Linked DNA regions of Homo sapiens. The protein of the gene in region 1 purifies or fractionates together with the protein of each later gene. This does not show direct contact. Each region holds a gene or a part of one and is shown in the gene's direction. Other genes may lie near its edges.

Region 1 (4,505 bases):
ATAGTAGGCACTTAATAAATGTTTGTTGAATGAATGAACAATCCACGGAGGGCAATAGCCAGGCAGTACTGTGGTTAAGTAAGCCAACTGCCAAATTGGTGGAAGGGATTGTAATAATATATTATGGCCTTAAACTGTGTCATGATTTCATCTAGGATGTAGACTGTCGACACTTCCTGAAGAGATCTTCTGCCCTGAGAACCATAAAGGTTTTCTGGTGGGGATGGGGAAGATAGAAGTATAGTAAATTACAGACTAGCATCTGTATGTTGTCTTACTGTTTCGCAGCTGATTTCATCAGTTGACCCACAGTTCCTGAAACTCACCAAAGTAGATGACCAAATTTACTCTGAGTTCCGGAAAAATTTTGAGACCCTTAGGATAGATGTGTTGGACCCAGAAGAACTCAAGTCAGAATCAGCCAAAGAGGTAAAAATTCTCTTTCTTAAATATTACTTAGCATTTAACCAACAATTTTTGATTGCGAATGTTTTTTTACATTTAAGCTCTTTTTTTGTTTGAGAAAAATATGTAAAGAACCAGAACTTCTTTTCTAGTTGTAATCAACTAAGTTAGGAAATGAATGTTTTTCCAGTTTATGGACTTTTCATGTTGTTGAGTCTATTTTTTTCTCCTTTTTGTCTTGGACATTTTAAATCTCCACCCATCAGCCCTTTCAGAGGAGGATGGATCAGTTTATTTAGGTAGTATAGCCAGAAGGCTTGGATGGGGAGTGGCAAATAGGGTATAGGAAGGTGTTTTGATTCTCTGGATTTAAGTTCATGTGATTACAGGCCATGGGTAACTGGAAAACTTTTGTTTTTCATTGCTTATGTGATTATCCTATACTTTGATAGGAAACTAACACATTTACAGTTAGGAAAAAAATGTTTTCCTTGAGAGTAAACCCTTGGCTAATGAAGAATCTAAAGTTTTTGTTTGTTTGTTTGTTTTGTTTTGTTTTTTGTTTTTTGGTTTTTTTTTTTTGATACAGGGTCTCACTCTGTTGCCCAGGCTGGAGTGCGGTGGTGCCATCTCAGCTCACTGCAACCTCCGCCTCTCAAGCTCAAACAGTCCTCCTGCTTCAGCCTCCCTAGTAGGTGGGACTGCAGGTGCATGCTACCATGCCCAGCTAATATTTTGTATTTTTGGTAGAGACAGGGTTTCACCATGTTGACCAGGCTGGTCTTAAACTCCTGAGCTCAAGCGATCCGCCCGCCTCGGTCTTTCAAAGTGCTGGGATTGCAGGCGTGAGCCACCACACCCAGCCAAGAAACTACACTTTTAACTCCTAGCAGGCAGTTAGTGATCTTTGTCTTTGGAAAACTGTCACTACTGAATGGACTTCTTTATTAAAATCATTTGTGTTTTAGTGGGGATAGATGACCATTTTGGGCTGAACTGACCAATAACTTCAAAACAAAACAATTGACTTAAGAAATAATATTTTAATTCTGCAGTAAAGGATTTATATATTTTTCAGAGTAAAATATTGTTCATCTTGGGAAATGGCAGTCTAAAGACACAATAGGTAGCACAGAAACGCATTGCTAGTTTCACTGTGAAACCAACAATCACCTCAATCCCAGTCTCACTATGATTATTTTCCTTACTGGGAAAATGGAAGTCCCTCTCCTGGCCTTAGTACGTCAGCCTCTTGCATTTGTCAGCTAAAGCATCGTTTTTGCCTTTATAGAAGTGGAGGCCATTCTGCTTGAAGTTTAATGGGATTGTTGAAGACTTCAACTATGGTACTTTGCTGCGACTAGATTGTTCTCAGGGCTACACTGAGGAAAACACCATCTTTGGTGAGTTTCTTCCCTCTGGAATTGTTTCTGTGTAAGGAGACTGAACAGTCTGGCTTTACTGATGAATCAGTGATGTGTATAGTTAGGTCACCTTATCTTGTTTCATCTTTAAAGATCTTGTTGCTATTTTTATGTAACTTGAAGATAGTTAAGTATTTTCAATCTCATTAATATGAGATTGGAATTAAAGATCTCTGAAGTTTATGACTATACTGGAATGGTTTGCATGTTATTTCAATTTTGTCAGTAGATTTCCAGCATATTTAGGGAACAGGCCAGGCACAGTGTCTCATGCCTTGTAATACCAGCACTTTGGGAGGCTGACATGGGAGGATCACTTGAGCTGAGGATTTTGAGACCAGCCTGGGCAACATAGGGAGACCCCATCTCTACAAAAATGTTTAAAAAATTAGCCAGGTATAGTGGTGAGTGTTTGTAGTTCCAGCTATTCAGGAGATTGAGGCAGGAGGATTGCTTGAACCAGGGAAATTGAGGCTGCAGTAAGCTGTGATTGTGCCACTGCAGTCCAGCCCTGGTCATCAGAGTGAGACCCTGTCTCAAAAAAAAGAGATTTAGGGAATAAGCTGAGAGTAGGATGATAATCAATTCTGTTCACTTTTCAGCCCCCAGGATACAATTCTTTGCCATTGAAATTGCTCGGAACCGGGAAGGCTATAACAAAGCTGTTTATATCAGTGTTCAGGACAAAGAAGGAGAGAAAGGAGTCAACAATGGAGGAGAAAAAAGAGCTGACAGTGGAGAAGAAGAGAACACCAAGAATGGAGGAGAGAAAGGAGCTGATAGTGGAGAAGAAAAAGAGGAAGGAATCAACAGAGAAGACAAAACTGACAAAGGAGGAGAAAAAGGGAAAGAAGCTGACAAAGAAATCAACAAAAGTGGTGAAAAAGCTATGTAAGGTATACAGGGAACAGCACTCTAGAAGCTATGACTCAATTGAGACTACAAGTACCACGGTGCTACTTGCACAGACCCCTTTGGTTAAATGTAAATTCTTGTACAATTGAAGGATACGCAGAAGGACATCTTTCTAGTCTAACAGTCAGGAGCTGCTCTGGTCATTCCCTTGTATGAACTGGTCTAAAGACTGTTAGTGGGGTGTTAGTTGATTTTTCCTGGTATACTGTTTCTTGGCTGACACTACTGGTCAAGTAAGAAATTTGTAAATAAATTTCTTTTGGTTCTTATTATCTATATCTGTGACTGACTTTAAAAAGGTATTTGACACTTGAAATTTTTTTCAAATATGTAATCTCATCACCATGTCTTATATAAGATAATTTACTCCTGTTTCTTACTGCTTCTCACTGTTTCCTGTAGTGAAGTTCTCTAAACTTGTTAAGTTATACCTGGTGTTGGGATTAGAAGTCCTTACATAAGAATTGACTCTTAATCTCTGAGTGACTATAACTCCCTGATTTCTTTGCTATATATGACAAAATATTTGATAAATAGCAGCAACCTGAACCTGTCAAACTAGTGAATGCAGCCCAGTTCATATTAGAAGAGCAAGAGACTGGACATGCTTCAGTATTTGCTTTTCTTTTGGTAGCCAGAATGTTACCTGAAAGCTAGCAAAAAAAAAAAAAAAAAAAAGGGAAAACCAGACAGAGTAGCTACCCCCTTTTTTTTTTTTTTGGAGATGGAGTCTTACTCTGACTCCCAGGCTGGAGTGTAGTGGCACAATCTTGGCTCACTGCAACCTTGGCCTCCTGGGTTCAAGTGATTCTCCTGCCTCAGCCTCCCAAGTAGCTGGGACTACAGGTGCGTGCCACCATGCCCAGCTAATTTTTTGTATTTTTAGTAGAGACGGGGATTCTGTGAAGAAAGTCAATGGTAGCTTGATGGGGATAGCATTATATCTATAAATTACTTTGGGCAGTATGGCCATTTTCACTATATTGATTTTTTTCTCTCCATGAGCATGGAATGTTTTTCCATCTGTTTGTGTCCTCTCTTATTTCCTAGAGCAGTGGTTTGTAGTTTTCCTTGAAGAGGTCCTTCACATCCCTTGTAAGTTGTATTCCTAGGTATTTTATTCTCTTTGTAGCAATTATGAATGGGAGTTCACTCATGATTTGGCTCTGTTTGTCTATTTTTGGTTTATTGGTGATTTTTGCACATTGATTTTATATCCTGAGACTTTGCTGAAGTTGCTTATCAGCTTAAGGAGATTTTGGGCTGAGACGATGGGGTTTTCTAAATATACAATCATGTCATCTGCAAACAGAGACAATTTGACTTCCTCTCTTCCTATTTGAAAACGTTTTATTTCTTTCTCTTGGCTGATTGCCCTGACCAGAACTTCCAATACTACATTGAATAGGAATGGTGAGAGAGGGCATCCTGGTCTTGTGCCGATTTCCAAAGGGGATGCTTCCAGCTTTTGCCCATTCAGTATGATATTGGCTGTCGGATTATCATAAATAGCTCATTATTTTGAGATACGTTCCATCAATACCTAGTTTATTGAGAGTTTTTAGCATGAAGGGGTGTTGAATTTTATGGAAGGCCTTTTCTGCATCTAATGAGATAATCATGTGTTTTTTGTCATTGGTTCTGTTTATGTGATGGATTATGTTTATTGATTTGCATATGTTGAACCAGCCTTGCAACCACAGGATGAAGCTGACTTGATCGTGGTGGATAAGCTTTTTGATGTGCTGCTGTATTCGGTGT
Region 2 (3,952 bases), on another chromosome or scaffold:
CCTTGTCCTGCTTTATGCTTGCTCTGAGCTGTGGGAACCTCTGCCAGTGAATTGGAGCTGAGGGTTAGAATTTAATTTAGAATAGAAGGGTGAAAATTGGTTCTGTTTACATCAACTGGTTAAGTACTATGCTGAACCTTGATAAGCAGACAAGTAAGAGACAGCCTTTTTTTTTTTTCAAGGAATTCATAAAGGAAATTTAAAAATTATAGTGATGACATTAAGAGTAGAAGTATTTGTAGGCCGGGTGCGGTGGCTCACGCCTGTAATCCCAGCACTTTGGGAGGCCGAGGCGGGCAGATCACGAGGTCAGGAGATCAAGACCATCCTGGCTAACACGGTGAAACCCCATCTCTACTAAAAATACAAAAAATTAGCCAGGCATAGTGGCGGGTGCCTGTAGTCGGGAGGCTGAGGCAGGAGAATGGCGTGAACCTGGGAGGCGGAGCTTGCAGTGAGCCAGGATCGTGCCACTGCACTCCAGCCTGGGTGATAGAGCGAGACTGTCTCAAAAAAAAAAAAAAAAAAAAGAGTAGAAGTATTTGCAGTGTATAGAAATACCAGCCTGAGGAGGGGCCATCAGGGAAGGCTTGCCAGAGATGGATTTTAAAGGATGAATAGGAGTTTTCCAGACAGGTAAAGGGGTTCGTTGTTTGAGAGGGCTGGGCTTTTGACAAATCTTTCATGGTGGCTAGTATTGATTTTCACTCCCAGTAGACAAGCCTTCCATTATGGCATAATGTGAAATAGAAGCCAGAAAAACAGGATGGTTTTGAACTGCAGTGGCAAACTTTAGGTTAGGATATTGGACCCGTGTGAATTTTTTTTTTTTTTTAGATGGAGTTTTGCTTTCGTTGCCCAGGCTGGAGTGCAATGGCACCATCTTGGCTCACCACAACCTCTGCCTCCCGGGTTCAAGCGATTCTCCTGCCTCAGCCTCCCAAGTAGCTAGGATTACAGGCATGTGCCACCACGCCTGGCTAATTTTGTATTTTTAGTAGAGACGGGGTTTCTCCATGTTAGTCAGGCTGGTCTTGAACCCCCGACCTCAGGTGATCTGCCTGCCTCGGCCTCCCAAAGTGCTGGGATTACAGGTATGAGCCGCCACACCCAGCCAGACCCACGTAATTTTTTAGTGGGGAAATGCTGCTGGCCTTGCATCTTCTTAACTTGTGCTTTGGAGGCCAGAGTGCTGATTCACTGGAAACTGATGATGGATGACTCTTGTCCTCTTTATCAGTGAGTGATTTGGCCTCAGGTATTTCTGTTTGAAGTTCTTTATTCTTTCTGGCCCAAACACTTGCCCTTAACCAGCTGTACTTGAGCTCAAGTCCAGCTTACTTGGACTGAGCTGTTACGTTCATCCCTGATTCATTCATTGAACAAATAGTTATTGAGTGCCTGTCATGTGCCAGCCCTGGGTACAGTGGTGACAAAAACCTGTGTCTTGGCTGGGAGCAGTGGTTCTAACCTGTAATCCCAGCACTTTGGGAGGCTGAGGCAGGTGGATTGCTTGAGTCCAGGAGTTTGAGACCAGCCTGGCCAATATGATGAAACCCCATCTCTACTAAAAATACAAAAATTAGCTGGGCATGGTGGTGCGTGCCTTGTAGGCCCAGCTACTTAGGAGGCTGAGGTGGGAGGATCACTTGAACCCAGAGGTGGATGTTACAGTGAGCCAAGATCACACCACTGTACTCTAGTCAGGGCGACAGAGTGAGACCCTGTCTCCAAAAAAACACCACAAAACCCTGTCTTCATGAAACTTACCTCCTAGTAATCTACACAGTAACCCTCATCCTCAAGTGCAGGTGTACATCTGGCTGGTAGCCACCCTGCCTGTCACTTGGCTTCTCTTCATCTCCCATCCTCCCACTCTGGCTGAGTTGATCTCTAAATCTCTACTTTCCCATCAGGCTGCTCATGGCCTGTCCCCAGCTTGCTTCAGCCTGTCTCTCTAACTTCACTCCCCAGTCCTCTCCTATGAGAACTTTCAGCTTCTCTTCCTTCCACATCTGGTCACTGCCCTTGCTCAGGCCCTTACTGGAATTCCCTTCCTCCTGTTTATCACATGGGTTGAACTGTACGTCATTAGGGTCCTCTCAGCCACCCAGCAAGTGTTTGGGCCAGAAACAAGAAAGAACTTTTCCCTCCTCTGAATTCAGACTGTCTTGCTGTCCACCACTGGGTTAGCCTGCACCACAGAGTGCACGCTGGTTTTTTTTTCTTTTTTTTTGGAGACAGAGTCTCGCTCTGTCACCCAGGCTGGGGTATAAATGGTGCAATCTTGGCTCACTGCAACCTCTGCCTCCTGGGTTCAAGCAGTTCTTGTGCCTCAGCCTCCCGAGTAGCTGGGATTACAGGGGTGTACCACCACGCCCAACCAATTTTTGTATTTTTAATAGAGATGGGGTTTCGCCGTGTTGGCTAGGCTGGTCTCGAACTCCTGACCTCAAGTGATCTGCCCACCTCGGTCTCCCAAAGTGTTGGGATTACAGGCATGAGCTACCGTGCCCAGCCCACAGTGCACACTCTTGTTGCCTTTTTTTTACTGTTCATTTTATTCACATCCGGGTAGAAGCCTGGTTTTTCAGGCTTATGGAATTTTTTCCCCTTCCAGATTTTCCATGGGATGGCTGGCTCTTGAAAAACTAGCTTGCACATGTATGTACATACACAGACACATACATAGAAAGGTAAATAAGAGGACTAGAGGCCTAAAAGGCCTCTGGCTGCTCAGCAGTGAGGGGCATGGGACATTGCCTGTTACCTGTGGTGGTGACCTGTCTTATCTCTTGTCACAGATTTGGAGTCACCCAGTTGCCTGAGCCTGTCTGTTCACTTGTATTTGCAGCGGAACAGCTCCAGGCACAGATGACCTGGATTGTCCATTATTCTCTGACTTGAATCTCATACACCAGAGGCCTATATCCATTTCAGTTAGAGTTTAGACCAGATTCTTTCCTTTACTCAGGACGTAATAAAATATTTGTATATAGGGAGTGCTTAACAAGCATTGGTTGAATGACCTAGTCTAGTTCTAGGACCTTCTGGGAGAGGTAACCTGAGTCTTCCTCACTGTGTTGTTCAGACAGGCAAGGGGCCATTCAGAAAAGATGTGGGAACGAGGCCTTGAGTATTATTGTAGGGATTAGACAAGGGGAGGATGAAGGTATGTTTTTATCCCCAGTACTCTTGGCCTATGGCGGTTTTCTTTCAGGCTTGCTGACATGGACCAAGGAGCTGAAGATTTCACTTGGCAATACGCCATTCTCTGAATATAATTAGTCTCATTTGAAATTTAGTAGCTGAACATATACTGTATTAATTAACAATACTGGTCAGGCACGTTGGCTCATGCCTGTCATCCCAGCACTTTGGGAGGCCAAGGCAGGAGGATCAGTCAAGACCAGGAGTTTGAGACTAACCTGGGCAACAAAGCAAGACCCTGTCTCTACAAAAAAAAAAAAAAAAAAAGAAAGGTCAGGCGTGGTGTGGTGGCACACACCTGTAGTCCCTGCTACTCAGGAGGCTGAGGTGGGGGGTATGGCTTAAGCCCAGGAGGTCGAGGCTGTGGTGAACCAAGATCTCGCCACTCCAGCCTGGGTGTCAGAGACCCTGTCTCAAAAAAAAAAAAAAAAAGTTTGTTTCTTAGAGTAGCCCAAGGAATGCCCTACATTTGAGTCAACTCTGGAACTGGAGAAAAAAGAAACATAATGTAACTGGTGAATAAAGGTAAAACTAACACATGTGATGCCTTTTAATTGCCTTTTCTTCTTGTCTTATTGCTTTAATTAGCATGATGAAATTCCAAATGTTAAATTAAGAGCAAAGCATACATAGAAGAATGAGAACATACTAGTACAAGAGAAGGTGACACAGAGGGATTAATATTAGGTCTGGAGTCAGGAAATCTGTCTTGGGGTCCTAGCACTATCATTGCTTATCTGTG

The links. The genes of interacting proteins can lie anywhere in the genome.
Region 2: the proteins of PBDC1 (region 1) and PTPN23 fractionate together in Homo sapiens (co-fractionation; one large-scale study listed by BioGRID). This does not show direct contact.

What each region holds. Positions count from the first base shown.
Region 1 is NC_000023.11:76,175,185-76,179,689, forward strand, and holds the end of PBDC1 (protein PBDC1), read left to right. Parts: intron 1-288; coding exon 289-429; intron 430-1,696; coding exon 1,697-1,808; intron 1,809-2,431; coding exon 2,432-2,724; coding exon of another isoform or gene 2,725-2,833; 3' UTR 2,834-3,130; downstream 3,131-4,505.
Region 2 is NC_000003.12:47,383,946-47,387,897, forward strand, and holds part of PTPN23 (tyrosine-protein phosphatase non-receptor type 23), read left to right. Parts: intron 1-3,952. UniProt on the Homo sapiens protein: Plays a role in sorting of endocytic ubiquitinated cargos into multivesicular bodies (MVBs) via its interaction with the ESCRT-I complex (endosomal sorting complex required for transport I), and possibly also other ESCRT complexes.